3 separate regions of the Homo sapiens genome follow, and all the other regions are linked to region 3. Evidence: fine-mapped expression QTL. A gene starts in region 3. Each other region holds a variant in brackets. All regions are shown on one strand. Distances are between the middles of the regions. Region 1 holds the start of NDUFV1 (NADH:ubiquinone oxidoreductase core subunit V1). Region 2 has its middle 28 kb from the start of GSTP1. Region 3 holds the start of GSTP1 (glutathione S-transferase pi 1).

Region 1 (9,972 bases), 26 kb before region 3:
GAACCCCTGTGGTCGGTGGGGGAGGCAGCTGGGAGGCTGAGAGCGGGGCCCTCTACCAGCTCCTCCCCAAAGTGCCGGGTGCCCCGCCCCCTGGTGGAGCCACAAGTTGCTGCAGCTGTCGATTAGCTAAGCCCAAGTGGCTGAAGCCCACCAAGGTGGCATGGACAGGCCACTTCACCCAGCGCCAGCCCCGTGTACCCTCCGCCCCAGATCCCAAGCACAACAGCGCCCGGAGCATGGTGGGTGCCCACAGAGCACTTCCGCATTCCTGAGAACCGCCTGTGAGCAAGGTGGTGGGGCTTTCCGCAAATGGAAACCTACCCTGCGGGTGAGAGCAGTGCATCCTCCCCGGGCTTCCTCCCTGAGCCTGTTCAGAAGCACCAGGGCCCAGAGTGTGACAAACGACACTCAGCATCTGGTCCCCAGGGAAATAGGGGGTGAAGAGGGTGGGGTTTTGAAGAGATCTGCTTCTCCTTGGGAAGTGAACATCCTCTCAGAGCCGCTTGCCTACAGGGGTGGCTACACACACTGGATGGGAGGCCACTTAGGGAGCTACTGGCATGTCAGCCAGTTCGCTTCCCCTCCATGACAGACGTATCTGACTGGTCATGTGGTCAGCAAGCCTCGCCTTTGGTCAGGCCCTGGAGGGTACAGCTGACCCATAGGGCCACTTCCATGGCACTGGGCAAGTGGCTGTATTGGAAATGAAGTCGTTGCCCCCGATTTCTTTGGGGCCAGGTTGAGCTTTCCTGCCCAGAGCACGGAGGCTAAAGGGGGTGGGCTTTGGACTGGATTGGGGCTGACCTCAGCCTACACCTGCAGGAGGAGGTGGAGACAGAGGTGGCCTGGGAGGAATGTGGGCACGTCCTACTGTCACTGTGCTACAGCTCTCAGCAGGGTGGCTTGCTGGTAGGTGTGCTGCGCTGCGCCCACCTGGCCCCCATGGATGCCAATGGTTACTCGGACCCCTTCGTGCGCCTGTGAGTGAACTGGGGTAGGCAGGCGGGAGGTGAGGATAAGGCGGTGACTCCTCACCTCTCCAGGGCCACACCTAACCCGCCAATCTTCCCCGATCAGTTTCCTGCATCCAAATGCAGGGAAGAAATCTAAATTCAAAACCAGTGTTCACAGGAAGACCCTGAACCCCGAGTTCAATGAGGTGAGCCAGGGCCAGGCAGGTCCCAGCCAACCCTGGCCTTGACATGCTGAGCCACTACCCTACCGTGGCCTGCTTCTTAAGCTGTGGGAGAGCCGAGGCTGCCTCCTTCCCGCCTCTCTGCCCTTCTCCCTGCAGGAATTCTTTTACTCAGGCCCACGGGAGGAGCTGGCCCAGAAGACGCTGCTGGTGTCTGTGTGGGACTATGACCTAGGCACGGCTGATGACTTCATTGGTGAGTGGGAACATGAGGAGCTGGGGTGGGGGCCCAGTAGGCTCCTGGCGGTTCCTGACCCATCCCCCATGGCAGGCGGGGTGCAGCTGGGCAGCCATGCCAGTGGGGAGCGCCTGCGGCACTGGCTTGAGTGCCTGGGCCACAGTGACCACCGCCTGAAGCTGTGGCACCCGCTGGACAGCAAGCCTGTCCAGCTCAGCGACTAGCCCATGGGCCCTGCCTGCCGCCCCTCCACTACAGCTGCCTGAAACGTCCCCACAAAAATGATGGCGGCTGGGGCTGCCTTACCCTCATGCCCAGCCCCAAGTCAGAGAGGTGTTTCCTCTCTCCCCGCTTTCACATTCACCCCACCCCAAATCATGGAGCCGAAATAAACATCTCCTTCAAGCCAGATGAGACCCTGTCCTTTCTCTGGCCATGGGCCAGACTGGACCCTGTTCTCCCCTCCCACCCTTGAGGATCGTGTGCTGGGTAAAGGGTAAAGAGCACAGTCACAGCAGCGGCAGCTGGAGGGTGGGCAGCACTCGCTTTATTGTCCAGCATTCCACATGGATAGACGCAGGACAGCAGGCCAGGGTGGTGGGCTAAGAGGCAGCCTGCCGGGCCTGATGCTGCTGGGCAAACCGCTGCATCCGCTCCTCGAGCTCCGGCCGAAAGTGGCGGATCAGACCCTGGGGTCGGTGGGGGGACCATGTGAAACAGAGTCCAAAAATCCCCCAACACCCTGGGCCCTTGATGCCACCCACCCTCCGTGCTACGCAGAAGGGTGGTGAATACCTGCACAGGCCAGGCGGCCCCGTCACCCAGAGCACAAATCGTATGGCCTTCTATCTGCTTGCTGATCTCCCACAGGGAGTCGATCTCGGCCGGCCGGGCATCCCCCCTCACGAAACGTGCCATCACCTTGTTCATCCAGTCCACACCTGCAGCCACAGCCACAAGAGAGGGCCTGATGATCTCCCCAGCCAGGATGTGGGGCGGCGCTTGAGGGCTGCAGGCCACGTGGTGGGGAGGAGGTTAAATGAAGCCACAGCAAGCAAGCCCCCAACCTGCCCGATGCTCACCCTCACGGCATGGGGTACACTGGCCACAGCTCTCGTGCTTATAGAACTCAATGAGGCGGGCGATGGCTTTCACGATGTCCGTCTGGGTGACGAGGGGCAATTAGCAGGCACCCACGGCCAGACAGAAGCCTGGGCCTCAGCCCCCTAGCAGCAGCCCCTCCCCCAGTTCCAGAAGCTCTTCCCAGCCCACCCAGCGTTCTGGCCTCCTCCAGCCTCCCTGGGCCCCCTGTGCTGCCCAGACTCCGGGGTATTCTCCTCAGAGCAGCCTTCCTCCCTCCTCTTCCACCTTGCTTTATCTCAGGCTGCAGGAACTGAGACCTGAGTGCTGGCAAGAGGGTTTTCTGGGAGGCCCAGGGAGGGAGACAGCAACCAGGAGGGCAGGGACCAGGGCTGGTGTGTGAACCCTTACCGAGCGGTCCATGACGATCACCGCAGCTGTGCCCAGGCCTGTCTGTGCCTGCACCAGCGCATCGAAGTCCATCAGCACCGTCTCACACACAGACTTGGGGATCAGTGGGGTAGACGAGCCGCCAGGGATCACAGCAAGGAGGTTGTCCCAGCCGCCCGTGACACCCCCTGGGGCCCCAAGTCGGTCCCCAAAGGGATGCATGGTCAGGGCTGGGGCCGGCACACCTGCCTAGTCCTGAGCCCAGGCCCTTAGTCAGCCCCTAGACCCAGCCCCGTCTCCTGAGCCCTCCCGCCCAGGCTCTCTTTGTGGACACCTGCCCCCACTGCGCACCCCCCCACCACCTGGCTGGCCCCAGGCCTTACCAGCATGCTTCTCAATCAGTTCTTTCAAGGGCACAGACATCTCCTCCTCCACAGTGCAAGGGTGGTTGACATGGCCAGAGATGTTGAATAGTTTGGTGCCTGAGTTGCGTTCTCTGCCAAAGCCAGCAAACCAGGTACCTCCACGGCGGCAGATTGTGGGGGACACTGCCACTGTCTCCACGTTGGCCACAGTTGTGGGGCAGCCAAACACTCCTTCAGGGAAATGGGAAGAGAACTGGTGGCTGCTAGGGGGTGGGGCAAGTTTCCTGGCAGGGAGGTGTGTCCCAGGGTCCTGCACCCATGGCAGAGCCCCTGCTCTAATATCCCCTTATCATTCTTATCCCTGCTGGACCCCAAACTCCAGAGATGCCCATTGCCTTGTTCACCCCATGCCCTTAGCCTCAGAACAGGCACTGTGAAGGTGGAGCCACAGAGCAGCACTGGTGCGGAGGGGACCGAGGCAGGAGGAGGGACAGCAGGCGGCCCTGGGGGAGCCTGTGTGTTGTTGCCAGCCTACTCTCTATCTGGCCCCAGCCGGGAAGCCACTCAGAAATCCCTAAGAACAATCCAAAGGGAGCCTAGCCAGATCCCGGGTGTCACAGGACACAGTCTGACCCAGGGTTACGCCAGGCCTTACCCACGTCTGCGGGGAAGGGGGGCTTCAGGCGGGGCTTGCCCTGCTTGCCCTCAATGGACTCGATGAGCGCTGTCTCCTCTCCACAGATGTAGGCCCCAGCCCCGCGCACCACAAACACGTCAAAATCATAGCCAGAGCCACAAGCATTCTTGCCAATCAGACCTGCCTCATAGGCCTCTCGGATGGCCACCTGCAGGACAAAGGTGTGAGTTTCCCAGCCCACCCCCAGCCCAGGAGTCAGCCTATAACTTCAGGAGTCATGAAGCCCTTGAAGGCCTCCCACGGTGAAGCTCCTAATGCTCCTGGTATAAAAAATTTTGCTAGCTTAGTAAAACGAATTGGAAAACTTGACTATGATCTGGAACAGATAAGCAAGAAGGAACACATAAGTAAGCTGCTTTGCTGCCAGGAAAATAAAAACGAAGTAGCTACTATCAGGTCTCCTAACTACCCTAGTCTGTAAAGGAAAAATAAAAGTCCTTATAAAATTAAAATAAAAATGTAATTGCCTATATCCTTATTGCCTTAACCTATTTTATTTTTCTATATTTCCTACAGATATAAGTATTATTCATAGTTCCAAGCAATGAACATAATGTATTTTCTCCAAATAGGAATTGTTTATATTCATAATTATTCCGCTCTCTTGCTAAACACATAGTTCCACTTAGGTTTTTTCTTCTTGCTACTTGTTTTATAAAAAATACTATATTTTTGAAGCAAAAAAAAAAAATTTACACCAGCAGCATTAGGAGCCCTGGAAGGAGGCTTTGGGAGCCAAGTCCCATTTGGGATGCATGCAGGACTGGCCACCACTCCCCCAGTTCAACCACTGACAGACCAGGTACTAACACCTCAGAACAACTGTGCTGGGTGAGGGGTGTGTGAGTGCACACTGAACACCTTCTCATCTGTCTACATCTCTCCCTACCCACCTGCAGATTGGAGGCCTCATTGTAGAATTCCCCTCGGATGTAGATATAGGCAGCGCGGGCGCCCATGGCCCGGCCCCCCACCAGGCAGCCTTCCAGCAGCTTGTGAGGATCATGGCGTAAGATCTCCCGGTCCTTGCAGGTGCCCGGCTCCCCCTCGTCTGCGTTCACCACCAGATACTTGGGCCTGCAGGGGCCCACAGGTCAGACAGGCTACAGGGCCATCAGGACTGGGTCTTCAACTCCATGCCACCCCACTCCACCCAGGGAGGCCTCAAAGATGTCTCCTCTGACAGCCAATCCTTTACTGCCCTCCCAACATGTCCCAGGGGCTCTGCTTGCTCACCACCAATGACAGGGAGCTCACTGCCTATTCTGTCTTTGGGTGGCTATGACCACAAGAAAGGTCTTCATTCAGCTCATCCAAACATCTCTCCTTGTGTCTGCCCCTGAGAGCCAGATTCTACTCTTGGTGACAAAGAGCATTCCTCAAGCTCTACCATCAAAAGGAGGTAAAGCAGGTGACATTTATCATTTGCTTTATGTGCCAACCAGCATACAGGCCAAAAGCTGTATGAACATTATCTCTTTAATCCTTGCATGATATCAC[T/C]GTACCTATTTACAAAAAGGAAGCTAAGGTTCACAAAGGCTGGGAAATTGCCCAAACCTCTATGATTAGGAGGCAGAGCTAGGATTTGAACTAAGTCTGCCTGAGTCAAAATCATGTGTTGATTCTGCTACATAAGTCTCCCCTGTGGAAGTCCACAGAGTAAGTCCCATCCATTTAAGGCCTGGGAACATGTGCCCACCTCATTCATGCTAAGTTTCTAAGGAAAGAGCCCAAAGGCCCAGGGAAACCCCAGCCACCCCCAAGGTCTCTCCCACAGCCACATCTGCCCCGCCCCCACACACACACCTGCCATCTGAGGGCTTATTCATGAAGCTCCACTTGAGGCCAGTGGGGAAGCCAGCGCCTCCACGGCCCCTCAAACCCGATGTCTTGATCTCGCCCAGGATCCAGTCGGGCCCCTTCAGCAGGATCTCCTTTGTCTTGTACCAGTCACCTCGACTCAGGGAACCTTTCAGCCTGGACAGAATAGGGAAGGCAATGAAGGGGACACCTTGCTCCGGGACCCAACACACTAAGGGCACTGTCTCACCTCCAGTCATGGCGGCCGTACAGGTTGGTGAAAATCCGGTCTTCATCCTTCAGCGAGCCAAATGAGGTTTTCTTGGGTGCTGTCTAGGGAGACAAAGGGTCAGGAGGCCCAGAGTGCTCTGGGGCCATGAGGGATTGGGCCAGAAGCTACAGAATCTTGGGTCTCCCTATTTAGGAGGGGCTGGGCTAGGGCTAGGGAAGCATCTATAGCATCATAGATACCACTGCCACTTAGTAAGCATTTTTTTTTTTTTGAGACAGACTCTTGCTCTTTTGCCTAGGCTGGAGTGCAGTGGCGTAATCTCAGCTCACTGCAAACTCCACCTCCCAGGTTCAAATAATTCTTGTGCCTCAGCCTCTGGATAGCTGGGATTACAGGCACTCACCACCACGCCCGGGTAATTTTTGCACTTTTAGTAGAGACAGGGTTTCACCATATTGGCCAGGCTGGTCTCGAACTCCTGACCTCAAGCGATCCGCCCGCCTCAGCCTCCCAAAGTGCTGGGATTACAGGCGTGAGCCACCGCGCCCGGCCATTAGTAAGCATTTTGTTTAGCAGGTACTGGATGGAAGCATTTTACATCCAAAATCCCATTTCATCCTCATAAGAACTCTGATAGGAACGATTTTCTCTGTTTCACAGAGGAGAAAACTGAGGCTTGGAGCAAAAGGAGCTTATGGAAGGTCTCACAGTCAAAAGCAGCAGGTCCAATTTGAGCCCAGGTCTGTCGGTGGCCAAACCCACAGCTGCATCACGGCACCACACAGCCCCACAAGCCGAGTGTGGCAGCTTGGCCCTTTCCCGGCCTGGCTCCCCTGCTGGACCAAAACTTGGGTAGGCCAGGGGCCTTTTATATTCCTACCTCGGCCGAAGAGGCGAAATGTGTTTACTGATGGGAAAGAAATGCCTCCTTAACACACAGGTGATGGAGGGGCTCACTTAGGATGAAATGAGGAGCCCCACGACCCAGTGGAGAGCGCACCAGCTGAGGGCGACGGGATTCCCATCCTTTTAAGAGCACTTTTCAGCCACTTCAGGGCGCAGAGCAGTGGACGGGAAATCAGGAGGTGCGCATCCCTAAATGGGGCAATGACCCCTTCACGCCCTACAAGGCTGTGACAAGGAGAGAATGAAAGACTAGGGGTCTTCACAACCTGCAAAACTTCCGCCAGGCCGAGGACTGTAAAACAAGGGAAGCCAGCAAGTCAGAGGGTCAAGGGAGTCGGCCCCGCGTTGGGACCCGTTCCCCTACTTCAACCAGGCCGGAGCGGGGGCCTTCCCGCCTGGCCTGGGGAGAAGGGCTCTCCAGAGGCCACTACAGACCCCAGGGACTGCTCGTGCACGGGCGCGGCCGCGACACCCGGCCCCAAACACCCGTGGCCCCAGCCAGGCTGGGCCTCACCGTGTCGCCGCTGAAACGCACAGATACCCGCGCGGGAAGCGACCAGCCGAGCAGCCGCCGTGTTGCCAGCATCGCGGCGGGCCAGATGGGTCACCTCACGCTGTCACCTTCATAGCACTGAGGCTGAGGAACTGGCGCGATAGAGACGCTAGGTGGCGCGCAGGAAAGACGTCACGCGCCCGACGCCAGCGCCGCGCACCGGTATCGCTGCGCCCCTTCAACTTCGCCAGCGGCCCCGCCTCCTCGGGGGAGGACTGAGAGGCCAGTGCCTTGGCGCCGGGGCTTCTGGGAGATGTGGTCCCACCGGCCTGGGGTCCGCCTTCCTCCCTCCACCGGGCTGGCATTTAGCGGTGGCTGTCCCCACCGCTCGCTCTTTCGCTCCCTCCTTAGCTCGCCGGCTCCCAGCCTTTGATGCCACAAGTAAACAAACCTCGCATGTCGCCTTCTGCTGGGTCCTGGTGTGTTCCACTTTCTATAGATTCGGCGTTTAGTGTGCACCTGCGGTATGCATCGGTGTATCATGGGAGGAGTGAAAAGTCAGGCAGGTCATAGCCCGATCCTCATGACTACGTTGCAATTATTCTGCCCAGTGCGAGCCCTGCCAGACTGTGGGCTTCCCCACCCCGGGCGTCCGTGTGCTCGAGGAAGGATTGCAGACTCCAAGGCAGGGGGTTGTTCGCGGAGTTCTTCCCAGAGGGCCTGTCACGGAATCCTAGGCTGGGGTGAGGCAGAGAGGATGCAGATGGTCAGTGCACGGCACAAACTCTTGCTGGCGCCGCTGAGTTCTCTCAGCTCTTGTCAGGAGAGTCCAGCACTTTCTGCTTCTGCCCAAAATCCTGGCATGGTCCCTGCTGCTTTTGGAATCAGCCACTGGTCCAGGATTTAAGGGCTCTGCGACCCCGTCCTTCGCCAGGGTCATCACGCCCAGGCCACTGCTGTGAACCCCACCCCCGTCCCCCAAGACCCCTTTCTGCCGTCATTAGACTTTAGGGCGTTTGTGTGGCTGTCCCCCTCCCTCGGTTTTCCCCTGACCTGAGGAGGTCCCTCTGTCCTTTGCCTTCCCAGGAGGTCTTGGAAGCCTGATGAACTCGTCTTTTTCAGTTTCCTGGAACCCTCTGCTGTGGTCCTCGTGATAAGAGTGACCTTTTTGGCCTGCTCTCCCCAGCTCTTTTCCAGTCCTCATGGTGAGGAACCATCTCTGTTCTTTTGTGCTGTAATCATCCTTCCTGATCTCTCTAAAACGTGCTGTTTACAAAACTCCTTTGCAGCTATTTTCTCACATACCCCACAGCAGCCCCACAAGGTGTTCACTCCATTTTGTCCACGAAAAAACTGAGGCTCAGGGGGATTTTGTCCTTTGTCTGTGGGCATGAAGCTGCTGAGTGGTGGAGCTGGACTGGAATCTAGGCCTTTCTTCCTTTCCACAGTGCCCCGCACACAGCAAACCCACAGAACAACTGACACGCATGTGACAGTCACTGTGGACGTCAGTGACATTCCCAAGAGAGGCACCAAGAAATCTCTTCCCTGTCTGAGGTTTCCCAGACAGATAGAGTAGTATCAGGCCCAGAGCCCAGGAGTCCTGGCTGCCAGCCGCAGGCCCCCTCTCTTGGTCAGGGAAAGAGGTTGCCTAGGCAAAGCTGGGGATTACACAGCTAATCCGGGCTCAGACCTGAGTCCTCGGATCCCTCCCTTTGGGGCAGAAGAAGGGGGGCAGGTCAGAGCCAGCCCAGCGGGTGGATTCCTTCCTCATCTGTCTCTAACTGGGTCAAAGGAATACAGGCTGAGGGAGATGCAGGTTGGGGATGCTGGGGACAGGAGATGCTGGGCATGAGGGGGGATGGAAAACGGAGAGTGAGGGAAGGATCCTCTGTTCATTCAGTGCCAGGCTCTGGGCCAAGCACTTGCCATGTGTTACCTCCTTAATCCTCCAAAACTCCAGCCTCAGGAATGATGAGCCCTGTTTTCAGAAGCAGGGTATCAGCATTGCTGAGTGGCCTGCCCAGGATGACACAACTGCCAGAACTCGGCCTGAGGTCTCCTAACAACAAATCCCCCACTGGTCCCCACCCACTGGAGCACCTACTTGCCAGGCTTCTCAAGCGAAGAAGGAGATCCACTCTGATGTCATCTCCCAGGAGCCTTCTCTGCAGCATCTCAGGTCCTGGCTCTCACCTCCTCAGCACCCATCCCATCCTGTGTCACTCTGTATATCAGCCTCCCCAGCCAGCCTCCAGGCCACAAGCCAAGAGGTATCAAGGGCTCCTCCCTGTCCCACTGGCCCCACATCCACTGTGTCTATCTGGTCAACTTTACCTTCCAAACATTCCCTGCACAGTGATAGATGGCTGTGGCCCTGTCATCTCTCACCTGAAATTAACAATGTATCCTTGGGGCCTCCCACCCTCACATCTTGGCTCCTCCAGCCCCTTCTCTGCAAACATGGAACAGTGGGATTATTATAAATCTCAGACCCGTTTTGCCCCTTTCCTGCCTGAGAGTTTTTGTGGTTCCCCACTGCCCTCAGAACAAAGCTCAAGACCCTTTGGCCTGGCATTCAAGGTCCTTTGTGCTGCCACCTGTCAACCTCCCCAGTTCCAGCTCCTTTGGCTTTG
Region 2 (9,972 bases), 27 kb after region 3:
TAAAATAACATAAGCTATTGATTGGCTATACATTGTGCTTTGTATCACAAATTCCAGGAGCATGAAGATAATGGGTGAGGCAGCTAGTCAGTCAAAATGCCTTTATATGATTACCTCCAGGCAGGGGGTATGCAACTGAAGTCCACATCCATGTCTCTCCCGGCCTGATTCATTCGTGCACCTCACGTAGGTCAGACTGCTCTGAGGGATTTTTCTTTTCTCAAACACTAAGCTGGTATCTGGAGAGTCAGAGAAGTGGTTGCTGGTATTGGAAAACACCCCAGTTTATCTTTGATTTTCTTTTTCTCTTTTTTCTTTTTTTTTTTTTTTTTTGAGACAGAGTCTTACTCTGTCGCCCAGGCTGGAGTGCAGTGGCATGATCTCGGCTCACTGCAAGCTCTGCCTCCCAGGTTCACACCATTCTCCTGCCTCAGCCTCCTGAGTAGCGGGGACTACAGGCGCCCATCACCATGGCTGGCTAATGTTTTGTATTTTTAGTAGAGACGGGGTTTCACCATGTTAGCCAGGATGGTCTCGATCTCCTGACCTCGTGATCCGCCCACCTCAGCCTCCCAAAGTGCTGGAATTACAGGCGTCAGCCACCGCGCCCGGCCTGCATCTTTGATTTTCAGAAAACATATGATCCCTTAGGCCTCCTGCCCATTGCAGATTTACTTAGAGCTCAGTCTGAACCCCAATTCCCAGGCCTAGGCAGCTCAAGGCCACTTCCCTCCTCTGCAACAGAGCAAACCAAGCCTGTAGCTTTCTCCCCTCCTCAGTCTCCATCATGGAGAGCCCACTTTCTCACTCCAGTCCTCCTGGGCATTGCAGGGAATCGGCCCGTGATGGAGAATCAGGGTGGGGCATGGACAGGAGGCGGCACCTGGCATAGCCCAGTCCTCCATCTCCTCCTGCTGGTGCCCTCCACCCCTGCCTGCCTGACCCCAGGAAAAGCTGTTCATGGGACATCCAGGCCCTGGGCATAGAGATGGCCCCTCTCTGTCCAAATCACCCACCAGCCTATCTCCAGTCTTCCCTTAGGATTTGTTTTTTTAATATACATATTTTAAATGGAGATGGGATCTCAGTGTGTTGCCCAGGCTCGTCTCAAACTCCTGGCCTCCCACCTCAGCTTCCCAAGGCACTGAAATTATAGGCGTGAGCCACAGTGCCTGTCCAGGAATTTTTGAGAAATAAGTTTTCTCCACTTCATTACATATTGTTTTTATAATGAGCAGTACAGGAAAAAGCTGGCCAAAGGCATCATCTGGGCACAGCAAAGAAGGCACAGAGGGCACCTGAGGTCTTCGTCAGCTAAGCATCCTTTGCCTCTTCCTTTGGTAACAGAACCTCTCTTTCTTGGAGGAACCAAATCCATGTGATTGAACTGAAAGTGACCACTTCTGCCAAGGGGATAGGAACTGCATTCTCCTAGCCAAAGTGATTATTCAGGGAGGGGCAGGACCCAGTGAGCCACGCCAATGAAAGGCAACCCCAGAACTCATCAAAGAAAGCCTTAAAGTGACTTGGCCATATTTGCCACCCTGCAGGTACAGGCTGCCTGAGAATGAAGCCACAGAGAAGTAAGCAGTGTAGAGAAAAAGAATGCTGGCTGGGTGCAGTGGCTCATACCTGTAATCCCAACATTTTGGGAGGCTGAGGCGGACAGACCACTTGAGGTCAGAAGTTCGACACCAGCCTGGCCAACGCGGTGAAACCCCGTCTCCACTAAAAATTCAAAAATTAGCCGGGCACCTGTAGTCCCAGCCACTCGGGAGGCTGAGGCACGAGAATTGCTCGAACCCGGGAGGCGGAGGTTTCAGTGAGCCGAGATCGCACCACTGCACTCCAGCCTGGACGACAGAGCAAGACTCTGTCTCAAAAAAAAAAAAAAAAAGAGAGACAGAGGGAGAAAAACAATGTTTCATGGGGAGGAAGAGTGAGAAATGATGAAGAATTTGATGGAGCTCCTGGATCCAACGTGCGTAAAGCAGAAGCATCCGTTATCTTCCAGTTAACTGAGTCAGCAAATTCGCCTTTGATTGGGTTTCTGCTGCTTTCAATCAAAATCAGCCCAATACAAGTCGAAGAGTGAGAATGAGGAGTGAGCCCCGCCCCTGCTGCTGTGTGTGGCACATTTGCAGGCTCTGGGAGACGCTGGTTAGAGTCAGGGACAGTCGACGCTGTGGACCCCGTAGCGTGGCCTCAGCAAGCTGGAGCTGGGCCCAGGCTTCCCAGAATGAACCAGTAATACAGCAGTCAGTGTGCCTCCCCGCCCTCCTTGATTCCTGAAATAACTGGTTAAATATAAATTGGCCCCACCCCACTGAAGTACTCAAGAAGGAGAAAAAACAACTTAGTGATAGCAGTGTAGTCTCCGTCGAGTGTTTCTGGGCGGCACATTCACTAGAAGTCACGCCAGTTGCAAGTCAGAAACCCGGTGCTGCATGGGGTATGCTGCGTGTTGCCAACAAGTGACTTATTTTATCATCTACATTGCAAACCTAGAAGATGCCTCTTCAAAAGGTGTTGTTCAGAGAACCCCTGATCCCGCGGGGCTGGAACATGGACGTGACAGGGATGGCATCCTTGGCATGGCAGAGAGAGCAGGGGGAGCCTGGGTCCCTAACACCACGGAGTGCCCATTGCTTCGTGCAGAGGACACCGGACTTGTTGCAGAGTGAAAACATACTTCTAGCTTGTTTCAGCTGCTGCGGTTGGGGGACTTTGTAACCTCAGTGGGACTTGTATCTGATTAATATACAACCTGAAGTGAGAACAAGAACCAAAGAGAAGTAGGAAATGGTTAGGATTTTTTTAGCCCCGGAAGGTGAATTTATTTCTGAAAACAATCTTTTGTTTTTCTTTAAATAAAAAGCGGCTTTTTAAAATAAAGAAACAGCCAAACTAAATACATGTTGGGCAAATATGTAAAGACTTTGGGCTGGGCGCAGTGGCTCATGCCTATAATCCCAGCATTTTGGGAGGCCAAGGCGGGCAGATCATTTGCGGTCAGGAGTTTGAGACCAGCCTGGCCAACATGGTGAAACGCTGTCTCTACTAAAAACACACAAAAAAGAGCCGGGTGTGGTGGCACACACCTGTAGTCTCAGCTACTCGGGAGGCTGAGGCAGGAGAATCACTTGAACCCAGGAGGCAGAGGTTGCAGTGAGCCGAGATCGCACCACTGCTCTCCAGCCTGGGTGACAGAGTGAGACCCCTCTCAAAAAAAAAAAAAAAAAAGACTTTGAAAGGGGCCAGTTGTGGTGGTTCACGCCTGTAATCCCAGCACTTTGGGAGGCCAAGGCAGGTGGATCACTTGAGCCCAGGAGTTCGAGACCAGCTTGGGCAACATGGCAAGACCCCATCTCTACCAAAAAAAAAAAAAAAAAAAAAAAAGACTTCAAAGGGACAATAAATTACTAGCCTATCTGTGTCCATATTTCATAGTCTAGTCCCTAATATTTAAAACAAATAGCCTTAAGACGATTTGTGTGCCATTATTATACACCCCTTAAGCATATAAAAAGGTAAAAACATGTTCAGTGTCATTAGGAAATGCAATTTTTTTTTTCAAGATGGAGTTTCACTCTGTCGCCCAGGCCAGAGTGCAGTGGTGTGATCTCTGCTTACTGCAACCTCCACCTCCCAGATTCAAGTGATTCTCCTGCCTCAGCCTCCCGGGTAGCTGGGATTACAGACATGTGCCACTATGCTCGGCTAATTTGTGTATTTTTAGTAAGGACGCGGTTTCACCATGTTGGCCAGGCTGGTCTCCAACTCCTGACCTCAGGTGATCTGCCTGCCTCAGCCTTCCAAAGTGCTGGGATTACAGGCATGAGCCACCATGCCCGGCCAGAAATGTAAATTAAAGCCACAGTGAAATATCACTGCACGCAGGGCACTAACAATTCCAACTGTTGGGCCAGGCGTGGTGGCTCACGCCTGTAATCCCAGCACTTTGGGAGGCTGAGACGGGTGGATCACGAGGTCAGGTGTTCAAGACCACCCTGGCCAAGATGATGAAACCCCGTCTCTACTAAAAATACAAAAATTAGCCGGGCGTGGTGGTGGGCACCTGTAGTCCCAGCTACTCAGGAGGCTGAGGCAGAGAATTGCTTGAACCCAGGAGGTGGAGGTTGCAGTGAGCTGAGATCGCACCACTGCACTCCAGCCTGGGCAACAGAATGAGGCTCCGTCTCAAAACAAAACAAAACAAAACAAAACAAAAAACAACAACAATTCCAACTGTCAACAGGAGGGAGAGCAACTGGAACTTCCATGCACTGCAGATGGGAGGGATTGTTAAACTGTTCAGCCACACTGAAAAACTGTATCAGCTGTAAAACTTCCAAGGTATATACTAGTGATAGGTGATTTTATGGGTTAAATTGGTCAGGCCCCAACACCCAAGTATCTGGTCAAACATTATTCTAGATGTTTCTGTGAAGGCATTTTTTAGATGAGATTGACAATTAGATCAGTAGATTTTGAGTGAAGCAGATGACCCTCCATAATGGGGGTGGGCCTCATCTAATCAGCTGAAGGCCTTAAGAGAGACAACTGAGGTTCCCTGAAGAGGAAGGAATTCTGCCAGAGACGGCCTTCAGCCTCGAGCCACGGCATCACCTCTTCCTGGGGTCTCCAGCCTGCCAACCTATCCTGCAGAATTGGACTTTTTTGAACATACCCAGCCTCCACCAAGCACATAAGCCAATTCCTTGGAGCCTTTCTCTGTCTCTGCCTCTCCCTCTCTCTGTCTCTGCCTCTCCCTCTCTGTCTCTGCCTCTCCCTCTCTCTTTCTCTCCACACACATCCCATTGGTTCCGTTTCTCTGAAGGAAACTAATACAAAGCTCAAAGGAAAGAGCGTATGCGTCCACCAGAAGACCTTTACAAGCACGCTCAGAAACCGAGCTCCCATGTTTATTGCAGCATTGTTCACAACAGAACAATTTATTTTGTATTTTTAAAAAAATTTGGCCGGGCGTGGTGGCTCATGCCTGTAATCCCAGCCCTTTGGGAGGTCGAGGCGGGTGGATCACCTAAGGTCAGGAGCTCAAGACCACCCTGGCCAGCATGGTGAAACTCCATCTCTACTAAAAATACAAAAGTAGCCAGGCATGGCGGCACACGCCTGTAGTCCCAGCTGATCGGGAGGCTAAGGCAGGAGAATCGCTTGAACCTGGGAGATGGAGGTTGTGGTGAGCCGAGATTGTGCCACTGCACTCCAGCCTAGTAGACAAAGCAAGACTCCGTCTCAAAAAAAAAAAAAAAAAAAAA[AAAT/T]TGGGGGCTGGGCAAGGTAGCTCACGCCTGTAATCCCAGCACTTTGGGAGGCCAAGGTAGGAGGATTCCTTGAGCCCAGGAGTTCGAGACTGGCCTGGGCAACATAAGGAGACTCCGTCTCTACAAAATTAAAAATTAAAAAATTAGCCAGATGTGGCGGTGCATGCCTGTAGTCCCAGCTACTTAGGAGGCTGAGCCAAGAGGATTGCTTGTGTCCAGGAGGTTGAGGCTGCAGTGAGCCATGATCACACCACTGCACTCCAGACTGGAGGACAGAGCAAGACCCTGCCTCAAAAAAAAAAAAAAAAAAGAAGAAGTCAGAATGAAAAACAAAAGAAAATCAAATTATATTCTATTTACAAGGAGCACATTTATAGCATAAGACTATAGGAAGGTTGAAAATAAAAGGATTAAAAAAGATAGGCCACATAGGAACAAACTGAAGAAAAGCTGTCATATATCTATACTGACGTCAGGTCAATAGCACTTTTTTCTTTTTTTCTTTTTTTTTTTTTTTGAGACAGAGTCTTGCTCTGTCCTCAGGCTGCAGTGCAGTGGTGCGATCTCGGCTCACTGCAACTTCTGCCTCCCGGGTTCAAGCCATTCTCCTGCCTTAGCCTCCCAAGTAGCTGGGACTACAGGCGCCCGGCACTACACCCAGCTAAATTTTGTAGTTTTAGTAGAGAGGGGTTTCACCATGTTGGCCAGGCTGGCCTCAAACTCCTGACCTCAAGTGATTCACCCACCTCAGCCTTCCAAAGTTCTGGGATTACAGGCATAAGCCACTATGCTTGGCCTACCAATAGCACCTTAAGGGAAGAAAAATAAATAAATAAATAAATAATGAATTTTAAAACAAAATCTTTACTACTTGGAAGGCTGAAACTGGAAGATGGCTTGGGGCTAGGAGTTCAAGGCTGTAATGTACCACGATACAGCCTGTGAATAGCCACGGCACTCCAGCCTGGGCAACACAGCGAGACCATCTCAAAACAAAGAAAACAAAACCTTTACATATGAGATGGGAATTTGCTAATGTGAAAAGATTCAGTATTTATTAAGACGTTGCAAAAATTCTAAATTTGTATGCCCTTAATAACATGGCCACAAACTATATACAGTAAAGTATGATGGAATTATGATGAGAAATACACAAAACAGCTGTGTGTGTGTGTGTGTGTGTGTGTGTGTGTGTGTATGTGTGTGTGTGTGTGTGTATTTGCCAATCTCAATCTTAATTCATTTCTATTTCCTTCCAGCCTAGAGTGGGATATTTTGAAATAGTGCTTCAGTAATTGATAGAAGAGACTGAGAAAACGATCAGAATAATATTGAATATTTGAATGACTGAAAATACGCTTTGTTTTCAAGCACACAAGGAGTACCTATCAGATCCTATACAGCCAGAAACACCCACACTCTTCAACAGATTGAAATCTTAGAGCATGTTTTCTGTACGCAATACAACTGAGCTAGAAACCAACTATAAAAAGATAACTTGAGTCTTTGATGAGGGCTATTTATTTTCTTTCTTTTTTTTTTTTTGAGGTGGAGTCTCACTCTGTCACCCAGGCTGGGGTGCAGTGGCGCAATCTCAGCTCACTGCAACATCTGCCTCCCAGGTTCAAGTGATTCTCCTGCCTCAACCTCCCAGGTAGCTGGGATTACAGGCATGCACTACCATGCCCAGCTAATTTTTATATTTTTAGTAGAGATGGGGTTTCACCATGTTGCCCAGGCTGGTCCCAAACTCCTGACCTCATGATCTGCCCACCTCGGCCTCCCGTAGTGCTGGGATTACAGGCATGAGCCACTGTGCCTGGCCTCTCCCACTTCTAACTTTACTTTTTAACCTCTTAACAGAGTGTTCTGCAAAGCAAACATTTCCTTTTTTTTTTTTTTTTGAGATGGAGTCTCGCTCTGTCACCCAGGCTGGAGTGCAGTAGCGCAATCTCGGCTCACTGCAACCTCCACCTCCCAGGTTCACACCATTCTCTTTCCTCAGCCTCCCAAGTAGCTGGGACTACAGACGCCTGCTACCACGCCTGGCTAATTTTTTTGTATTTTTAGTAGAGACAGGGTTTCACTGTGTTAGCCAGGATGGTCTCAATCTCCTGAGCTCATGATCCACCTGCCTCAGCCTCCCAAAGTGCTGGGACTACAGATGTGAGCCACCGCCTCTGCTGCCCAAGCTGCCTCTGTTGCCCAAGCTGGAGTGCAGTGGCGCAATCATGGTCCACTGCAGCCTTGACCTCCCAGGCTCAAGTGATCCTCCCACCTTAACCTCCTGAGTAGCTGGGACTACAGGCATGTACCACCATACCTGGTTAATTTTTTTTATGGTTTGTAGAGATGGAGTCCCACTGTGTTGCCCAGGCTAGTCTTGAACCCCTGGATTCAAGTGATCCTACTGACTTAGCCTACCAAAGTGCTGGGATTAGAGGTGTGAGCCATAGTGCCCAGCCAAACATTTTTATTTTTATGAGGTGCAATTTATCCATTTTTCCTCTTATGGATCATGCTTTTAGTATTAAGTCTAAGAATTCTTTGCCTAGCTCTAGATCCTGAACATTTTCTCACATTTTTTCCCTTAAAGTTATATAATTTTTCATTTTGTAATTAAGTCCATAATCCATTTCAGTTAATTTTCTATAAGTTGTGAGGTTTAGATTAACATTTCTTTTTTTGCCTATGAAATTCTAATTGCTCCATTACCTTCTGTTGAAAGGTATATTCGTCCGTTTTCACACTGCTATGAAGATACTACCCAAGGCTGAGTAATTTATAAAGCAAAAAGGTTTAATTGACTGACTGTTCTGCATGACTAGGGAGGCCTCAGGAAACTTACAATCACAGCAGAAGGGGAAGCAGGCACATCTTACATGGCAACATGCAAGAGAGAGCAAGCAAAAAGCCCAGGGAAACTGACTTTTATAAAACCATCAGATCTCATGAGAACTCCCCAACTATCATGAGAACAGCATGGAGGCAACATGCTGATTCACGATCCAATCACCTCCCACCAGGTCTCACCCTCAACACCTGGGGATTACAATTCAAGATCAGATTTGGGTGGGGACACAAAGCCTAACCAAATCATTCCACCCCTGACCCATCCCAAATCTCATGTCCCTTTCACATTTCAAAACACAATCATGCCAAAGTCTTAACTCATTCCAGCATTGACTCAAAAGTCCACGGTCTAAAATCTCATCTGAGACAAGGCAAGTCCCTTCTGCCTATGAGCCTGTAAAATCAAAAGCAAGCTAGTTATTTCCTAGATACAATGAGGGTACAAGCATTAGGTAAATATTCCCATTCTAAATGGGAAAAACTGCCCAAAAAAAAAGGTGCTACAGGCCCCATGCAAGTCTGAAATCCATTGGGGCAGTCATTAAATCTTAAAGCTCTAAAATGATCTCCTTTGGCTATATGTCCCACATCCAGGGCATGCTGATGCAAGGGGCAGGATTTTTCACAGGCTGGCATTCAGTGCCTGTGTCTTTCCCAGGCACATGGTGCAAGCTGTCAGGGGACCTACCATTCTGGGGTCTGGAGGACAGTGGCCCTCTTCTTACATCTCCACCAGGCAGTGCCCCAGTGGGGACTCTGTGTGGAGGCTCCAACCCCACATATCCCTTCCACATTGCCCTAGCAGAGGTTCTCCATGAGGGCTTTGCCCCTGCAGCAGACTTTTGCCTGGACATCCAAGCACTTCCATACATCTTCTGAAATCTAGGCAGAGGTTCCCAAACCTCAGTTCTTGACTTCTGTGCACCTGCAAGCCCAACACCACAAGGAAGCTGCCAAGGCTTGAGGCTTGCACCTTCTGAACTAATGCCCCAAGCTTACCTTGGCCCCTTTTAGACATGACTGGGGCCCATGAAACCATTTTTTTCTCCTAGGCCTCTGGGCCTGTGGTGGGAGATGTTGCCAACAAGATCTCTGACATGCCCTGGAGACATTTTCCTCATTGATGGAAATGACTCACAGTTCTACATGGCTGGGGAGTTAAATAGTGATTAACATTCAGCCCCTCATTACTTATGCAAATTTCTGCAGTGGGCTTGAATTTCTCCCCAGAAATTTTTTTTTTCTGTTGCATCATCAGGCTTGCAAATTTTCTAAACTTTTATGCTCTGCTTCTCTTTTAAATGTAAGTTCCAATTTCAAATCATCTCTTTGTGAATGCATAAAACTGAATGCTTTCAGAATAATCTGGGTCATGTCTTGAATGCTTTGCTGCTTAGAAATTTCTTTTGCCAGTTACCCTAAATCATCTCTCTCCAGTTCAAAGTTCCACAGATCTCTAGGGCAGGGGCAAAATGTCACCCAGTCTCTTGGCTAAAAAGCATAGCATGAGTGACCTTTACTCCAGTTCCCAATAAGCTCTTCAACTCCATCTGAGACCACCTCAGCCTGGACTTCATTGTACACATCCTTATCAGCATTTTGCTCAAAAGCATTCAACAATTCTCTAGGAAGCTACAAACTTTTCCATATCTTCCTGTACTCTTCTGAGCCCTCCAAACTGTTCCAACCTCTGCCCATTACCCAATTCCAAAGTCGCTTCCACATTTTCAAGTTTCTTTATAGCAATACCCCACTCTCTGCAGTACCAATTTACTATAATAGTCCATTTTCACACTGCTATAAAAATACCACCTGAGACTGGGTAATTTATAAA
Region 3 (9,972 bases):
GCAGAAGCCAGACAAAGAAAACAATTTTGACTGGTTAGAGTGAAAAGTCCCAAGTTAGAGGTTAGTTGGCAGTTTCTGATTAATATAGCGTATTAGGCTGGGTGCGGTGGCTCACGCCTGTAATCCCAGCACTTTGGGAGCCCAAGGCGAGTGGATCACGTGAGGTTAAAAGTCCGAAACCAGCCTGGCCAACATGATGAAAGCCCATCTCTACTAAAAATACAAAAATTAGCCAGGCGCGGTGGTGGGCACCTGTAATCCCAGCTACTCAGGAGGCTGAGGCAGGAGAATTGCTTGAGTCTGAGAGGCAGAGGTTACAGTGAGCAGAGATTACACCACTATACTCCAGCCTAGGCACCAGAGTGAGACTCCATCTCAAAAACAAAACAAAACAAAACAAAACAAAAACAGTGTATTAGTCCATTCTCACACTGCTACAAAGACCTATCAGAGACTGAGTAATTTATGAAGAAAAGAGGTTTAATTGACTCACAGTTTTGCAGGCTTAACAGGAAGCATGACTGGGAAGCCTCAGGAAACTTACAATCAGGGTGGAAGGTGAAGGGGAAGCAGGCACATCTTTACAAGGTGGCAGGAGAGAGAGAGCGATTCTCATGCCTCAGCCTCCCAAGTAGCAGGGACTACAGGTAACCGCCACCACACCTGGCTAATTTTTGTATTTTTAGTAGAGACGGGGTTTCACCATGTTGGTCAGGCTGGTCTTGAACTCCTGACCTCAAGTGATTCACCTGCCTCAGCCTCCCAAAGTGCTGGGATTACAGGCATGAGCCACTATGCCCAGCCTAGATAAATTTGAATGCTTTTCTCTTGCTCATGTCTTTAGTTCTCAGGCCCAGCCAAAAAACCCTAAAAGGACAGAGATAAAATTTTGCCTGCCCTACAGCATCTTACTGGCTTAGCTTCTCTGGAGAATCCTAATACAGTAGTGTCATTGCTTGCCTAGGATGCACCAAAACTCACAAGTCAGCAGGAAGCCAGGAAAGCCCCCATCCAAGCAGAATGACCCTCCCACCAACCTGGGCTGCTCAGAGCTACTCAGCTAATCCCCCAGGACAGGGAACTCCTCACATCCCTCCTTCCCAGAATCCCTCATTTCCCTCCATCCTGGAGTCTGTCCATCTGACAGGCACGTGCTGTGCCTAGAAAGCATGTTTCTATGAGACTTTTCTCCTTCTATATACACTGTGTGGTGCTCCAGGACAGTGACCATGGTTATTTCTCTTTGTTTCTCTCTCTCTTTTTTTTTCTTCCTCTTCTAGTTTGTGAGGTTCAGTAAACACAGCCAGGCTGAGGGCTCCAGGAAGCCACTGACTGTGCTGGAGGAGCTGTTTTCTAGTCCTCTGCTCTGCCCTCCCACCGACCTCGAGGCTGAGAACCCCTAAGCCCCGTCCCAGGAAACACAGTGCTCATAGTAGCTCTCTTAGAAATTTTATTGGTCCTGGAGAAAGGAAGGCAAACTCTGCCTCCCGCTCAGAGTCCCCCCAACCCTCACTGTTTCCCGTTGCCATTGATGGGGAGGTTCACGTACTCAGGGGAGGCCAGGAAGGCCTTGAGCTTGGGCCGGGCACTGAGGCGCCCCACATATGCTGAGAGCAGGGGGAACGCATCCAGGCAGCCAGGGGCTAGGACCTCATGGATCAGCAGCAAGTCCAGCAGGTTGTAGTCAGCGAAGGAGATCTGCAGGGCAGGGGGGCCAGGGACTCAGCCAGCGGGAGCAGGCTGGAGGAATTGGGGGCAGAGGGCCTAAGCCCATCCCCTAGGTCTGCTCTGCTTTGCTAAACAAATGGCTCACACCTGTGTCCATCTGGAAGCAGAGGGTGGCGAGGAAGGAACAGCATGGGGCCAGATGCTCACCTGGTCTCCCACAATGAAGGTCTTGCCTCCCTGGTTCTGGGACAGCAGGGTCTCAAAAGGCTTCAGTTGCCCGGGCAGTGCCTTCACATAGTCATCCTTGCCCGCCTCCTGCCAGACACCACCATGTATCATCCTACTCTCATCCCTCCCAGCCCCTGAGACACCCCCGTCTGCCCCAGGCCAGACACCAGAGTCCCAGATTCTCCTCTGCTTGCTCCCCACAACCAGGCTAGTACCAAATCCTGTCCACTTCAGCTGCCAACTCATCTCTATTCCATTCTGCCTGTCCATCCTTGCTGGGTTCTCTCACCAGATGATTGCAAAAGCTTTAGAGCTGGCTTCTCTGGAGGATCCTTCTAGACCTCACATTCAGACACAGCCCTGTTCAGACTTCTCAATGGCCCCCATTGCCCTTAGGAGACTCCAAACCAGTGGGTTCAAGGCCTTCGGGACCTGGGCCTACTGCCCGCCCATCTCTATCTCCTTACCCACCCGACACAAATGCAAGCGTACACACACACACGCACACACATGCACACGCACGCGCACACACGCTGCCTCTGCTGAACTGGTCCCAGGTCCCCAAATGTGCTCTGTGTCTGCATATTTTCCTCAGCTAAAAGTGCCAGCACCTCCATCCAGAAACTGGCGACAAATCCTCCTCCACCTCTGGCTACTCCAGGAAGCCCTCGCCACCCCAGGAGATCAGAAACCACCAGTTGCTGGAGGTCTCTGTCCTTGCACTCGCCCCCATGACCCGTTACTTGGCTGGTTGATGTCCCAGGCAATAAGGGTGCAGGTTGTGTCTTGTCCCAGGCCCCTGGGCCCCTGGCCCAGAGCTGACCCAGCCCCTGCACCCTGACCCAAGAAGGGGTCAGCCCAAGCCACCTGAGGGGTAAGGGGGGTGAGGGCACAAGAAGCCCCTTTCTTTGTTCAGCCCCCAGTGCCCAACCCTGGTGCAGATGCTCACATAGTTGGTGTAGATGAGGGAGATGTATTTGCAGCGGAGGTCCTCCACGCCGTCATTCACCATGTCCACCAGGGCTGCCTCCTGCTGGTCCTTCCCATAGAGCCCTGGGGTTGGGTGGAGGGGAGCAGGCCGCGTGACTGGGCGCCTGATCAACACACAGTCACTGGGGATGGGCCAACCAGGGGGCTGTCTGTGAGCCCCAGCCTGGGAGGAGGGGAAGAGGATGTGCGTGGAAGGATGAGAGACTGCCACACAGCAGGTGCTCAGAGCTCACCTGACACCTGGGAGGCAGCCTGGCACAGGGCAAGGATTGCAGGCACCCAGGCTTGACCTTGGGCAAACTACGTAACCTCAGTGGGTCTCAGTTTCCTCCACTCCAGAGGGCTGCGGGGCAGCTGATTTAAACAAAAGGGCTCCGGGGGCAGAGGCTTGCCCATGCCTGCCCTGGACTTGGAGGTTCAAGACTCACCAAGGGTGCGGCCCAGGTGACGCAGGATGGTATTGGACTGGTACAGGGTGAGGTCTCCGTCCTGGAACTTGGGGAGCTGCCCGTATAGCTGTTGGGGGAGGCATGGCTCAGGGAGGGGCACTGAGCTTGGGCGTCCCCCGATCCTAGTCACAGCCCCCTAAGGCCCAGCACCCCCTCCCCTTGCCCGGGCATGGTCACTTACGCAGGAGGCTTTGAGTGAGCCCTCCTGCCACGTCTCCACGGTCACCACCTCCTCCTTCCAGCTCTGGCCCTGATCTGCCAGCAGCATGCGCAGGGCCGCGCAGCGGCCTGCGGGGAGGGAGAAGTACGAGATGTGGGGACCGGGCCGACTCCGCCTCGCAGCAACCCGGGGAGGGGTCAGGAGTGCAGGGAGGGAACAGGGAAACAGGTTCCTCCGAAGATTTCACACAACACTGGGGCGGGGAGCAGGCATGGCGGGAGAGGCGGGGAACAGGAAGGAGGCCCGGGGTAAAAGCCACACGACGGAGGGATAAGGGGGTTCGGATCTCTCCGGGTGGGCGAGGGGCTGTGGGCTGCAGCCCCAGCCCCTGCCTCCCTTCCCTGCCAGACACATGCTCCTACCTCGAACTGGGAAATAGACCACGGTGTAGGGCGGCACTGCAGCGAACAAAGAAAAGTTTGCTGGAGCCCGGGGGAGGATGCCAAGGCGCGGTGAGCGCAGTCTGCCCCCCCTCCCCGCCCCCGGGGTCCCATCCCTCCCCGAGGCGCTCCGGGCCCCCTGAAAGCCGCTAACGGCACTGGGGACGTCCTGGGTCCCCTAGGCCCCCGTCCCGGGTCTCGAGGTGGGCGAGGAGCCCTGCCGGGAGCCCGGGCCTGATGCTGCGGGTTGGCCCCATGCTGGGAGCTCTGAGCCCCATCCCCGGGGACGCGGGCCGCGCGTACTCACTGGTGGCGAAGACTGCGGCGGCGAAACTCCAGCGAAGGCCTCGCGGCCTCCGAGCCTTATAAGGGTGGTCCCGCCCCGCTCCGCCCCAGTGCTGAGTCACGGCGCCGGCCGCTCTTCTGGAGGGTCCCGCGGACTCCCGCCGGCCCCAGCCCCGGCGGCCGCTGCACCCCGGGCGTCGGCCGCAGAGGGGCGCCCTGGAGTCCCCGGAGTCGCCGCGCAGCTGGCCGGGGAAGCCTTTCCCTCTTTCCCAGGTCCCCAGCGGGGCCTAGGGAGTAAACAGACAGCAGGAAGAGGACCGCAGCGAAGTGTGCGCAGCGAACTGGCGCGCCGGGACATCGCGGGGGGAAATTCCCTAAGACCGCTGCGATCCCGGAGCTTGCACACCCGCTTCACAGGGCAGGGGAGAGGGGTGGAGGCCGCTTAGAGGAAAGGAAATTGCTTTATTTTATTTTATTTTATTTTATTTTTTTATTTTATTTTATTTTATTTTATTTTATTTTATTTTATTTTATTTTATTTTATTTTGTGTTATTTTATTTTATTTTATGACGTAGTCTCACGCTGTGGCCCAGGCTGGAGTGCAGTGGCGCGATCTCGGCGGCTCACTGCAACCTCCGCCTCTCGGGTTCAAGCAATTCTGCTTCAGCCTCCCGAGTAGGTGGAATTATAGGTGCGTGCCACATCTGGCTGATTTTTGTATTTTTAGTAGAGACGGGGTTTCACCATGTTGGCCGGGCTGGTCTCGAACTCCTGACCTTAGGTGATCTGCACGCCTCGGCTTCCCAAAGTGCTGGGATTACAGGCGTGAGCCACCACGCCTGGCCGTCCAACTTTTATTTGAAGTTCTGGGGTACATGTAGAGGATGTGCAGGTTTGTTACATAGGTGTGTGCGCCATGATGGTTTGCTGTACAGATCATCCCATCACCCAGGTATTAAGCCCAGTATCCCTTAGCTATTCTTCCTGGTACTCTCCCTCCCCAGCACCCCGCTCAACAGGCACCAGTGTGTGTTGATCGCCGCCATGTGACCATGTGTTCTCATTGTTCAGCTCCCACTTATAAGTGAGACCATGCGGTCTCGCTGGTTTTCTGTTCCTGTGTGAGTTTGCTGAGGCTAACGGCTTCCAGCTCCACCCATGTCCCTGCAAAGGACATGATCACGTTCCTTTTAGTGGCTGTGCCTTAGGCTATTTTCTTTGGCTTTGCTGCCTACTTTCTGTTGATTTGCAGATCTCCATTTATTCTAGATATTGATCTCTTGTTGGCTTTAGACATGACAGACAGCTTCTCCTATTCCATCAACTGTCAAGTTTGTCCAAGGAGTCTTTCATGAAACAAAACTCGTTAATTTAAGTGTAATCAAATTCAGCAAGGGATTTTTGTGGTGGGGAAGAGGTTGGTGTTTATGTTGTATCTTTAAAACTTCATTTAATGCAGCCATTAAAAAGAACTAGATCATGTCTTTTGTGGGAACATGGATGGAGCTAGAGGCTATTATCCTTAGCAAACTAATGCAGGAACAGAAATCCAAATACTGGATGTTCTCACTTGTAAGTGGGAGCTAAATGATGAGAACTTATAACACAAACAAGGAAACAACAGACACTGTGGTTGACTCCAGGGTGCAGGATGGGAGGAAGGAGAGGAGCAGAAAAGAGAACTATTGGGTACTCGGCATAATACCTGGGTGATGAAATATTCTGTACAACAAACACCGAAGACACGAGTTTACTTATGTAACAAACCTTCACATGTACCCCCAAAACAGAAATAAAAGTTAAAAAACAAAGAAATTTCATTTAAAAGTCTTTTTTAAGAGACTTATTATCGGGGGAAATTCAGCCCCCAATATTTCACGTGGGTCCTTTCCTATTTTCCCTAAGTGTCGGCTGGCCTGAGAAATAAAGGGAAAGAGTACAAAAGAGAGACATTTTAAAGCCGGGTGTCCAGGGGAGACATCACATGTCCGCAGGTTCCGTGATGCCCCCTGAGCCGTAAAACCAGCGAGTTTTTATTAGCAATTTTCAAAGAGGAGGGAGTGCACGAACAGGGTGTGGGTCACAGAGATCACATACTTCAAGGGCGACAAAAGATCACAGGGCAGAAGGTCACGGCGAAACTAGAATCACTAATGAACTTCCAGGTCCCACTGTGCACGCACTGTCAGGGTTCAAGAGCAGAGAACCGGTCTGACTAGAATTTGCCAGGCTGGAATTTCCTAATCCTATCAAGTCTGGGGGTGCTGCAGGAGACTAGGGCGTGTTTCATCCCTTTCTACTTCTGAATAAAGGCAGGCACTCTCAGGGAGGCCATTTCAGTGGCCCGGCCCTGGGAATGCATTCTTTTCTCAGGGCTGTTAATTATTAATATTCCTTACTGGGGAAAGAATTCAGCGATATTTCTCTTACCTGTTTGCGGTAATAAGAGAAGTATGGCTCTGTCCTGCCCAGCCCACAGGCAGCCAGACTTTAAGGTTATCTCCCTTGTTCCCTGAAAATTGCTGTTATCCTGTTCTTAAGATGCCCAGATTTCACATTGCTCAAACACACAACAATTGTCCTCTACAAACAATTTGTGCAGTTAACGCAGTCATCACAGGGTCCTAAGGCGACATACATCCTCAGTTTACGAAGATGACAGGATTAAGAGATTAAAGACAGGCATAGGAAATCACAAGAGTATTGATTGGGGAAGTGATAAATGTCCATGAAATCTTCACAATTTATGTTCTTCTGCCATGGCTTCAGCCAGTCCCTCCGTTCGGGGTGCCTGACTTCCCACAACATGTATGTTGCCGCAGCTGGTCTGGAACTCTTGGCCCCAAGTGATCCTCCTGCCTTACTTAGCCTCTCGAATAGCTGGGACTACAGGCATGTGCCACCACACCCAGCTAATTTTTGTATTTTTTGTAGAGATGGGGTTTCACCATGTTGCCCAGGCTGTCCTTTTTTTTTTTTTTTTTTTTTTAAATTTTCACCAATGGACTGAGGTCACAAGGAAGCTTTTTAAATTTTTGTCACCTTGGGTTTTCTTTAATTTCACTCTAATTGTCTAGCTTTGGTGCTCTTCCTGGCTTGCCAAGCTGTCTCTCTGGTTTGGCCTCTTGGCCCTTCGGTCTGAGGTTGGTCATCTTTCTTCAGTTTTGAGAAATGTATCTCCATTGTTTCTTCTGAGATGCCCTCTTCTCCGTCTTCTTCCTCTTCCTCCTCCTCCTCCTCTTCTTCTTCTTCTTTCTTCCTTGCACTATCTGGAAAATGGCCCTTCTAATCTATCCTCCTATCACTTTACTGCCTTTTTTTTTTTTTAGACAGGCTGTCACTCTACTGCCCAGGCTGGAGTGCACTGGCACCATCTCAGCTCACTGCAATCTCTGCTTCCTGGTTCAAGTGATTCTCCTGCCTCAGCCTCCTGAGTAGCTGGGATCACAGGTGCCTGCCACCACACCTGGCTAATTTTTGTATTTTTAGTAGAGACAGGGTTTCATCATGTTGGCCAGGCTGGTCTCAAACTCCTGACCTCAAGTGATCCACCTGCCTCGGGCTCCCAAAGTGCTGGGATTACAGGCGTGAGCCACTGCGCCTGGCCACTTCGATGTCATTTGTGTTTCTTCTGGTTTGTCTTTCCTGGGAGAGAGTTCCCCAGCTGATCTCATCACTCACCTCTTCATCCATGAGTCGCATACCTCGTATGATTCATCCCATCTGTTGTTGGCTTTCTTCGATTATTGTTTTTATATCTACTCTTTCTTTTTGTTGCTTTTTGTAACTTCCTATTGCCAGTGCCTTCTCTCATGTCCTCATGATTTCTCTTGTGTGTATTCTCCGTCTGTGTGCTGCACTCATTCAGCGTCAGGGGATGTTCCTGTCCCCTGAGATGTCTCCCCTGGAACCAGTGAGCTTGTGCCCTTCCCTTGGTGGCACTGGTCATTCTCTCGGGTAGTATGCCAGCCTGTGGTTTCAAAGCAAAGGAAGGAGATAAGCACCACCAAACCACAGCCAACCTCTCCCCTTTGCTATCGCTCTTCAAACAGAGCTTGAGGTCAGAGTTTCCCCTTCCGAACCTTGGGAAGCAGCGCTGGGGAAGGTGGCTCCCCATGTTCTAATGTGCTGGTGCTGGGTGTTTCCAGGGGAAGTGTGGGAGGGAGAAAGCCCGCCCCATTCAGTCCCACTGTTCTCCCCAGTGCCTCACCCAGCAGAGGGTAGCAGAGGCTAACTTCGGTTTAGCCTGCACCAGGGTCAGTGTTCAGCAGTGACATCCCCTCAACAACTCCAGAGAGTACTAATAAAGGAACTGAATGCAAACTCCTTCCTTCTGGCATCCTACCACAGCCACCTCCAGCCACGCTCAGTCTCCACCCACACACACATCTCCACGCGCATCTACTCACATCCCTGTACACCCAGACACACACAGGTTCAACACAGCCTGCAGCCTCCAGGAGGGGCGACGTCTCACTTTATTTGTTTAATTTTACTGTTTTCCTGAAATCTCTGTTTCTCTCTGTGGTTTCTCCCATATTTCTACCGGAGAGGGCAACGAAAGCTCATGATAGTTCACCATCTAAATCAAGGATTGGGACACTATGGACCGTGGTTCATCACCTGCTTGTGTAAATAAAGTTTTATTGGGCCCCAGCCATGCTCACTCATGTGTGTGTTATCTATGTTTGTTTTTGTGCTACAGTGGCCCAAATGAGTGATTGCAACAGAGACTATGTGGTCCTCAAAGCTTAAGATATTTTCTTTTTTCTTTTTTTTTTTTTGAGATGGAGTCTGGCTCTGTCGCCCAGGCTGGAGTGCAGTGGCACGATCTTGGCTCACTGCAAGCTCCACCTCCCGGGTTCACGCCATTCTCCTTCCTCAGCCTCCAGAGTAGCTGGGACTACAGGCGCCCGCCACCACACCCGGCTAATTTTTTGTATTTTTAGTAGAGACGGGGTTTCACTGTGTTAGCCAGGATGGTCTCGATCTCCTGACCTTGTGATCCGCCTGCCTCAGCCTCCCAAAGTGCTGGGATTACAGGTGTGAGCCACCGTGCCCGGCCAGCTTAAGATATTTTCTGTCTACATTTTCAAGAAAAATTTGCTGACCCCTGATCTAGACCAAGGTCCAGACCCCAGCCTCAGGAAAAGCTAGACTTCCAATGTCACCCATTCGACCTTCACCAAGAGTGGCTCCATAGCAATGCCATCTTCCCCTTGCAGTACCCAGCGCCTCCCTGATATCTCGGCAGCACAGGAGGGTTCCAGGCCAGGGTGGGAGCCATTGAGATGCTCCTGAAATGTACTGTGAGGATGAGCAGATCTGGTCCAGCTTAATCTTCAAAGTTCTGAACTCTTATCCAAGGTGAAGGTGCCCCAGTGGCCTCACTGAGCCCAGGCGCAGGGATGGGTGGGCCACAGGCATGGGTTCATGCTTCCCTGAAAGGAGTTGAGGACGCTCATCTCAGGGCTGGGAGCTCTACTTGGTGCTTGGAGCACCAGTTGTCCCGAGCAGGTGGACTGAAGCTGGGAAAGCCCTTGGCCTCTGTCCCTTTCTTGGTCTTGATCCACGGCTACCCTGTGCCCACCAAGCTGCCATGTGCAGCCTGACCAAGGGCTGGGGCTCCGTCAGGGCAGCAAAAGCTAAGCCGGGGTTGACTGCCCAGCTCAGCAGGGCACGGAAGCAGGCTTGGGCTTCAGTCCAACACTTTTCCAGAGACAGCTACCGGCGTGGGGGCTGGATGGCCAG

The links. PIP is the estimated chance that this variant, and not a neighbour inherited with it, causes the effect. A credible set is the group of variants that fine-mapping cannot tell apart.
Region 1: its variant is the best candidate, but not a certain one, in a credible set for the expression of GSTP1 in whole blood (TOPMed, PIP 0.66).
Region 2: its variant is the best candidate, but not a certain one, in a credible set for the expression of GSTP1 in fetal neocortex (Walker 2019, PIP 0.88).

The regions. Positions count from the first base shown.
Region 1 is chr11:67,604,462-67,614,433 of GRCh38, reverse strand. NDUFV1 (NADH:ubiquinone oxidoreductase core subunit V1) reads right to left here and starts at 7,498. Exons shown (of 10, transcript NM_007103.4): 1 at 7,358-7,498; 2 at 5,956-6,038; 3 at 5,712-5,882; 4 at 4,799-4,982; 5 at 3,864-4,053; 6 at 3,227-3,439; 7 at 2,865-3,031; 8 at 2,456-2,537; 9 at 2,169-2,314; 10 at 1,880-2,062. The coding sequence starts at 7,429. The coding sequence ends at 1,976. NDUFV1-DT (NDUFV1 divergent transcript) reads left to right here and starts at 7,728. Exons shown (of 3, transcript NR_130935.1): 1 at 7,728-7,815; 2 at 8,423-8,541; 3 at 9,331-9,972. It also overlaps the pseudogene DOC2GP. RefSeq lists enhancers at 144-593, 684-733, 1,017-1,532, 1,502-2,701, 7,420-7,549 and 2 more. The variant T/C (reference allele first, on the strand shown) is at 5,406.
Region 2 is chr11:67,550,977-67,560,948 of GRCh38, reverse strand. No RefSeq gene overlaps it. Among named protein-coding and RNA genes, the nearest start is that of GSTP1, 28 kb to the left of the region's middle. The variant AAAT/T (reference allele first, on the strand shown) is at 5,283.
Region 3 is chr11:67,578,115-67,588,086 of GRCh38, reverse strand. It overlaps GSTP1 (glutathione S-transferase pi 1), which reads right to left and starts at 4,275. Exons shown (of 7, transcript NM_000852.4): 1 at 4,243-4,275; 2 at 3,918-3,953; 3 at 3,517-3,623; 4 at 3,315-3,402; 5 at 2,846-2,949; 6 at 1,876-1,983; 7 at 1,434-1,698. The coding sequence starts at 4,243. The coding sequence ends at 1,510. RefSeq lists silencers at 1-32, 3,896-4,045, 4,363-4,505, 4,056-4,675 and enhancers at 1,327-1,396, 8,615-8,714.